Linked DNA regions of Homo sapiens. Changing the gene in region 1 together with any one later gene gives a genetic interaction. Each region holds a gene or a part of one and is shown on either strand. Other genes may lie near its edges.

Evidence for each region.
Region 2: changes in PPP1R15B (region 1) and GBF1 together harm fitness more than expected from each alone (negative genetic interaction), as found in Homo sapiens cells (one study listed by BioGRID).

The regions. Positions count from the first base shown.
Region 1 is NC_000001.11:204,408,901-204,413,484, reverse strand, and holds the start of PPP1R15B (protein phosphatase 1 regulatory subunit 15B), read left to right. Parts: upstream 1-1,667; 5' UTR 1,668-2,073; coding exon 2,074-3,993; intron 3,994-4,584. UniProt on the Homo sapiens protein: Maintains low levels of EIF2S1 phosphorylation in unstressed cells by promoting its dephosphorylation by PP1.
Region 2 is NC_000010.11:102,374,220-102,378,031, reverse strand, and holds part of GBF1 (Golgi-specific brefeldin A-resistance guanine nucleotide exchange factor 1), read right to left. Parts: intron 2,674-3,812; coding exon 2,448-2,673; intron 1,761-2,447; coding exon 1,600-1,760; intron 1,473-1,599; coding exon 1,232-1,472; intron 1,098-1,231; coding exon 892-1,097; intron 1-891. UniProt on the Homo sapiens protein: Guanine-nucleotide exchange factor (GEF) for members of the Arf family of small GTPases involved in trafficking in the early secretory pathway; its GEF activity initiates the coating of nascent vesicles via the localized generation of activated ARFs through replacement of GDP with GTP.

The DNA.
Region 1 (4,584 bases):
AATAAAGAAATGAACTAAGACCAAACTCACAAGAGATAATCAAATACAGCAATTAAAATTACCAGCCATTTTTTTTTTCAAAGGATAGTGGTCCATGTTTCCTTTTTGGCTGTTGTATTCTGTGGTTCTGGTTGCTAAGGAAGTATTAATAAATATGAATTGAATATGTTGCCTGCTTGGAAGCATAAAAGAGAGTAAATAGTTCTGGGGACTGAGCTGCTTCTCTGTGAGTTTAGTTTGCCCCACACCAGACATGTATGTACGCAGCACTGCCCAACTTTTACATAAGATCTCAGGTTGATGGTCTACATAGTACTGAACAATAGGAGAACCCTGAAATATCTGTCAGGCTGGGCGCAGTGGCTCACGCCTGTAACCCCAGCACTTTAGGAGGCCGAGGCGGGCAGATCACTTGAGCTGAGTTTGAAACCAACCTGGGCAACACGACGAAACCCTGTCTCTATAAAAATATGCAAAAATTGGCCGAGCACGGTGGCTCACGCCTGTAATCCCAGCACTTTGGGAGGCTGAGGCGGGCGGATCACAAGGTCAGGAGATCGAGACCATCCTAGCCAACATGGTGAAACCCTGTCTCTACTAAAAATACAAAAAATTAACTGGGCGTGGTGGCACACGCCTGTAGTACCAGCTACTAGGGAGGCTGGGGCAGGAGAATCGCTTGAACCCGGGAGGCGGAGGTTGCAGTGAGCCGAGATTGCGCCACTGCACTCCAGCCTGGCGACAGAGTGGGAATCCGTCTCAAAAAAAAAAAAAATTTAGCTGGGCGTGGTGGTGCGAGCCTGTAGTCCCAGCTCCTCGGGAGGCTGAGGTGGGAGGCTCACTGGAGCCCAGGAGGTTGAGGCTGCAGTGAGCCGAGATCGCACTACTGCACTCCAGCCTGGGCGACAGAGCTAGACCCTGTCTCAAATAAATAAATAATAAAAATCTAAGACTACGATAACCCTACAGTTGGCCCGCGGGGCATTCAACCTTCCATGGATTGAAAATATTCGGGAAAAATAAAGATAATAAAACATAATACAAATAAATACAGTATAACAACTAGTTCCATAGCACTTGCATTGTATTAGGTATTATACTTAATCTAGGGGATGGTTTAAATATCTGGGAAGGTGTATGCAGGTTATATGCAAACACTATACCATTTTACATAAGGGACTTGACCGTCTGCGGATTCTGGTGTCTACGGGGTCCTGGAACTAATCCCCATTTCATGAGAGGGGATGACTGTACACACGTCAGTGTGTATTAGGCCATCAAAACGCCTCCGGGAAATTCTCGGGTTATTTTGAAAACCCCTCCCCTCCCCAAGACCTTTAACCTAGAGGGCTGTTGGGGCGGTCTCCTAGGAGACCACACAGAAACGACTGCGCATGCGTGCATTCCCCCCCCCCCCCCCCCCCCCCCCCCCGCCCCGGCTGATGCAACCTCACGCTGCCGTGCGGCTCTACCTCGAGTAAGGAAGCCGACAGGGAAATCTGGCAAAACCAATCGGCGGCCACACGGAAGTGGGCGGAAAGGCCCGCCCCCCGGGGATTTTGCGAGTGACGTTGGGCGGCGCGGCGCTAGGGACGTAGACGCCCAACAGTCCTGCGTCTCTTCCGGCGTCTAGGGGGGTGTCCTGCCGGCGCGCGGGCCCTGCGGCCATTTTGGGCTTCGCTTCCACCGCACCAGCCGGCCTACCCAGTCCTTCCGGTATCGCGTTGCTCAGGGGCTTTTCAACCCTCTGTCAGTCGGAAAACCATCGCCGAGGCCGTGGGGGGACTCCTATCCATGGTGTTGAAGCGTCGAGCCGACTAGGGAACCTCCTTCCCCGCCAGGATGGAAGTCGCATCAGTCGCCGCCTATTGCGCGGGCTGTTCTTCCCTGTGTTCTGCCGCCCGCTGCCGCATTCGCTGCCCTCTGTGGCTTTTCTGCTGGCTCGAAGATCGGCCTGGAGCAGCGACGCCACCGCTGGGCAAGGCCGAGACTCTGTAGGCTTCCTCCGAATCCCGTCGACCTCCAGCCGCTGAGCGCCGCGGCCCTACCTGAGAGACTGTCAAGAAAAAGGAGATGGAGCCGGGGACAGGCGGATCGCGGAAACGGCTTGGCCCTCGGGCGGGCTTCCGGTTCTGGCCACCCTTTTTCCCTCGGCGATCGCAAGCAGGCTCTTCTAAGTTCCCGACGCCTCTTGGCCCGGAAAACTCCGGGAACCCCACACTGCTTTCCTCTGCCCAGCCCGAGACTCGGGTCAGTTACTGGACGAAACTGCTCTCCCAGCTCCTTGCGCCGCTCCCCGGATTGCTTCAGAAGGTGCTAATTTGGAGCCAACTTTTCGGTGGAATGTTTCCGACCAGATGGCTAGATTTTGCTGGAGTCTACAGCGCCCTGAGAGCCCTGAAGGGACGGGAGAAACCAGCCGCCCCCACAGCGCAGAAATCTTTGAGTTCGCTGCAGCTCGACTCCTCAGACCCCTCGGTCACCAGTCCCCTTGATTGGCTAGAGGAGGGGATCCACTGGCAATACTCGCCCCCAGACCTAAAATTGGAGCTTAAGGCCAAGGGAAGTGCTTTGGACCCTGCAGCACAGGCTTTTCTCTTAGAGCAGCAGCTGTGGGGAGTGGAGCTGTTGCCCAGTAGCCTTCAATCCCGTCTGTACTCTAACCGGGAACTTGGCTCTTCGCCCTCTGGGCCTCTAAACATTCAACGCATAGACAATTTCAGTGTGGTATCCTATTTGCTGAACCCTTCCTACCTGGACTGCTTTCCTAGGCTAGAAGTCAGCTATCAGAACAGTGATGGAAATAGCGAGGTAGTCGGCTTCCAGACACTAACCCCAGAGAGCAGCTGCCTGAGAGAGGACCATTGTCATCCCCAGCCGCTGAGTGCAGAACTCATTCCGGCCTCGTGGCAGGGATGTCCACCTCTTTCTACGGAAGGCCTACCAGAAATTCACCATCTTCGCATGAAACGGCTGGAATTCCTTCAACAGGCTAGCAAGGGGCAAGATTTACCCACCCCTGACCAGGATAATGGCTACCACAGCCTGGAGGAGGAACACAGCCTTCTCCGGATGGATCCAAAACACTGCAGAGATAACCCAACACAGTTTGTTCCTGCTGCTGGAGACATTCCTGGAAACACCCAGGAATCCACTGAAGAAAAAATAGAATTATTAACTACAGAGGTTCCACTTGCTTTGGAAGAAGAGAGCCCTTCTGAGGGCTGTCCATCTAGTGAGATACCTATGGAAAAGGAGCCTGGAGAGGGCCGAATAAGTGTAGTTGATTACTCATACCTAGAAGGTGACCTTCCCATTTCTGCCAGACCAGCTTGTAGTAACAAACTGATAGATTATATTTTGGGAGGTGCATCCAGTGACCTGGAAACAAGTTCTGATCCAGAAGGTGAGGATTGGGATGAGGAAGCTGAGGATGATGGTTTTGATAGTGATAGCTCACTGTCAGACTCAGACCTTGAACAAGACCCTGAAGGGCTTCACCTTTGGAACTCTTTCTGCAGTGTAGATCCTTATAATCCCCAGAACTTTACAGCAACAATTCAGACTGCTGCCAGAATTGTTCCTGAAGAGCCTTCTGATTCAGAGAAGGATTTGTCTGGCAAGTCTGATCTAGAGAATTCCTCCCAGTCTGGAAGCCTTCCTGAGACCCCTGAGCATAGTTCTGGGGAGGAAGATGACTGGGAATCTAGTGCAGATGAAGCAGAGAGTCTCAAACTGTGGAACTCATTCTGTAATTCTGATGACCCCTACAACCCTTTAAATTTTAAGGCTCCTTTTCAAACATCAGGGGAAAATGAGAAAGGCTGTCGTGACTCAAAGACCCCATCTGAGTCCATTGTGGCCATTTCTGAGTGTCACACCTTACTTTCTTGTAAGGTGCAGCTGTTGGGGAGCCAAGAAAGTGAATGTCCAGACTCGGTACAGCGTGACGTTCTTTCTGGAGGAAGACACACACATGTCAAAAGAAAAAAGGTTTGTTTCTTGTCTTTTAACATGCCTGATATGTTCTGACTGTTTTTATATGCTTAAATATAGCAGCATGACTTTGGAGGCTTAGGAGTGCATGTATTTTTGAGGAAGGCCTCTAAATTCATATACTTGGATTGAGAAATATGTAAATGACCCTTCTCCTCCTGTCCCTCACCCCCCACCCCAATGCACATTGTTGCTGTCCAAAACGAACATACCAGTGTGTAGATGTTAGCAGGAAAGTGCCATTTTTATTTGGGTTGGTAGTTCTGGACTGTTTCCTTACAAGCTTCAATTTTTCACACTTTTTAACGGACTATTAAACTTTGTGTGTACACGATTTAATTTTTCTAGAGATTGAAAAGGTCCTGTTACAGCCATAGAGTTTTAAAATGATTTTAAATGTATGTTGTCTGCAAATACTTAATATTTTTTTTGCATATAACAAGAGTGTCTTCATTCCTGTCCATTACAACCCAAAGGGATGATGATATCAAGTAGCAAGTCAGATTTATCTGGTCCAATTGGCCATGAAATTAAATAGTAATTTCACTGGTTTTGACATTACATGGTTTTAATTGAAAGTCAAAGCCA
Region 2 (3,812 bases), on another chromosome or scaffold:
TAGCCAGGGTGGTCTCCATCTCCTGACCTCATGATCCACCCGCCTCGGCCTCCCAAAGTGCTGGGATTACAGGCAGGAGCCACCAAGCCCAGCCACTTTTGTCATTTTTGTATGGTTATTCTATTTAAGGCAATTGGTTCTCCATCAATTTAGTGATATAAACTCTGCTCACATAATTAATTTTATATGCCTTTGAATAGACACAGGGTAACTCTGGAAGGATAGACAAGAAACTGGTGACAGTGGCTGCCTCTAGTGAGGGGAACTCAGAAGCTGGGGACAGGAATGGATTGGAAACTTAGTTTTATCAGTTTACCCTTTTGTATATTTTGAACCTACTCAAAAAATAAGTAAATCTTAGTTTAAAAATAAATTTAAAGGCCAGGTGTGGTGGCTCATGCCTGTAATCCTAGCACTTTGAGAGGCCGAGGCAGGCGGATCACGAGGTCAGGAGATCAAGGCCATCCTGGCCAACATGGTGAAACCCCGTTTCTACTAAAAATACAAAAAATTAGCCAGGCATGGTGGCACGCGCCTGTAGTCCTAGCTACTTGGAAGGCTGAGGCAGGAGAATCGCTTGAACCCGGGAGGTGGAGGTTGCAGTGAGCCGAGATCACGCCACTGCACTCCAGCCTGGGTGACAGAGAGACTACATCTCAAAAAATAAATAAATAAATAAATAAATAAAAATAAAAATAAATAAATAAATAAATTTAAGCAAATAAAGACTTACAGGTAAGGTTTTGGGTAAGGGAATATTGTGAAGATGGTGGTCCAGGGCCTGGGCTGGCACACATGGGCCCTTCCCCTCAGCCCTGGCTTTCCCTGGCCGCCCCAGGCTCCCAGTATCAGGTGCAGGGGAGGAGAGGAAGTAAAGGGTGCCATACTTACGTCCTGACTGACCTGTAAAGACACCGTATGGTAGCTGGCAGGCACGCCTTCGTCCTCATCATCATCACTCTGCCCGCCCCGAGAGGCATGTTGGCTGGAGGTTCGAGGCCGGCGAAGCATTGATCCCTCTTTGGATTTCTTCTTGAAGCGGTTCCCTTTGCTGTCATATTTGTGACTCTTGCCACGTTTCTCCTGGGACTTGCATCCTGAGCAGAGCCAGACTCAGGTCACATTTCTGTGTCTATATAGGCATAGATACCCTGCCTTTTCTCCCCTCTCAGCCTCTCCCCTGCATAATTGCATGGCTACTCCCCAGCTGCCCCCTCATCAGCTGACCCACCGCCATTCAGACTGGCCTCCACAAAGATCCGGAGAGTCTTGACGCAGAGCTCAAAGTTGTCAGGTGTGATGTGGGCAGCATCACGCACAATGAAGGACAGCGATTCCACACACTTAAGCAGAGACTTAGTGTCGTGTGGCCCCAAATCCAGTCCCACTGTTAGGCTGTATTGATTGATCAGGGGTGAAGGGCCTGGGCGGCTGGGCCCTGGCTTGGAGTTATCAACGTCATCCTTCCCAACCTGTAAAGTACACAGAGGAGCTGGGGACACAGGCTTGGCCCCTGTGTGAATGTCCTTGCAGAGGACCAGGAATTCTTCCCACAGGTCAAGCAGGAGAGACTCAATTGCTGCCCATATTGTCACTCACCACTAACCAACCACTGTTGACCACATCGGCATCTGTGGCTGATCGGTGTATCTTGCCCGGCCTGCCATGGTCAGTGTAGACCTCTGAGTCGGAAGTGTACCCTCGATCCAGGCTCACGTCATTCTGATGGTAGGATGGGAGCTCACTATCTGACTGGGCCCCTATGGTAGGCAGGGAGAAGGGCAGAGTCAGGGTGGGGATGGGGCACTGGGATGAGGGATAAATCAGGCTCTCAGAAAAAAGATGCTGAGGCCTGGCCTCCCCTCTCTCTGGCATAGTTTAATTTCTGTCACCAGAGGGCCAAAGGATGGCCGGAACAGTTTCTCTGTTGACCAAATAAGGTGGCAGGCTAATCTGGGTTCCTGATGGCATCTAGTGGCAGCTGTAGCACCACTCTAGGGAGTGGTGGCAAGGACAAATAAGCAATGCAGAAGGCTATGAAGCCAGGCTTTCCACTGTCCTGAGGACTGTTTTCCCAGTTTCTGGGATTTAGTGATGTATCGATTTAGTGATATAAAGTCTGCTCACAGAATTCTATTTTCCCAGAATTCTGGGAAAACAGTCCTCGGGACAGCTCAGAAACAGAAACTGGGAAACAGTCCTCAGGACAAATCAGTCCTCAGGACAGTAGGAAGCCTGGCTTCACAGCCGTCTGCATTGCTTATTTGCCCTCATGCTATTTAACTTATGGGTACTAGCCAGCGGGCACTGGAAGCTCTGGAAGTGATGGCAGGAGCCAGGGCTGTTTAATCTGCTGAACACAGTAACCTGTGTTTTGTTTTCCTGTCCCAACTCCTGGGGTGTAACTGTTTATCTGCCAGCCTGAGTCTCCCTGGGAAAGGGCTTACCGGCATCAGGTGCATCTGCCCTGGCTGTGGCCTGCAGAGCAGCTGGAGGCTTCACACCTGAGCCGATGCACTCCAGCAGTGTGAAGAGTGTGGCCCAGTCATCACCTGAGTGGATGTTGGCTGCATTGGTCTTCAGGAGTTCATGGAGCCCATACGCAACCTGGTGGCTGACTCGGGATAGCACACTGGGCTTCATCAGTAGCAAAATGCGCAGGGAGAGCAGCACCTGGAGTGGGGTTAGGGCAGGGAGCGGGGAAGCGGGGAGCTGTGTGGGCACACAGCTTCCTGTCTAGTTTTCTTTCCCACCAGTCTCCTTAGGCCAGTGAAGACAGTTTGGCTAGGACCCAATTTAGGATACTGCTCTGGTCTTTTTTTTTTTTTTCAAATAGAAATATATTAATTATATTATTTGAGACAGGGTCTTGGTCTGTCTCCCAGGCTGGAGCACAGTAGCACAATCACAGCTCACTGCAACCTGAAACTCCTGGGCTCAAGTGATCCTCCTGCCTCAGTCTCTGGAGTAGCTGGGACTACAGGTGCATGTGACCACACCTGGCTAATTTTTTTTTTCTTTTTTGGAAAGATGGGGTCTCGCTATGTTGCCCAGGCTGGTCTTGAACTCCCAGGCTCAAGCGATCTTCCCGTCTCAGCCTCCTGAAGTGCTGGGATTATAGGCATGAGCCACTGCACCCAGCCTCAAATACAAATTTTTATTGAGAAAATTATAGGCTCATATGCAGTTGTAAAGAAATAATACAAAAAGGTCCCTTATACACTTTGCCCAGTTTATCCCAATGGTAACATTATGCAAAACTATAGTATAATATCATAATCAAGATACTATCTGATCTTATTCAGATTTCCTGTTTTACTTGCATTTTTGTGTGTATTAATTTCTATACAATTTTATTACCTGTGTAGGTTTGGGTATCCACCACAAAACAACATACTGAACAGTTCCACCACAACAGTATCCCTCATGTTGCCTTTTTCTTTTTTTAGAGACAGGTTTTGCTCTGTCACCCAGGCTGGAGTGCAGTGGTATGATCATAGCTCACAGCAGCCTCAAACTCCTGGGCGCAAGTGATCCTCCTGTCTCAGCCTCCAGAGTAGCTGGAACTACAGGCATGCACCACCATGCCCAGCTCATGTTGCCCTTTTATAACCACACCCACCTCCTCCTTCCTGCCCCCATCCCTAATCCTTAGCAATCTGTCTTCAAATTCTTTTTTTTTTTGAGATGGAGTCTTACTCTGTTGCCCAGGCTAGAGTGCAGGCAGGATCTCAGCTCACTGCAACCTCTGCTTCCCATGTTCAAGTGATTCTCCTGCCTCAGCCTCCCAAGTAGATGGGATTACAGGTGCG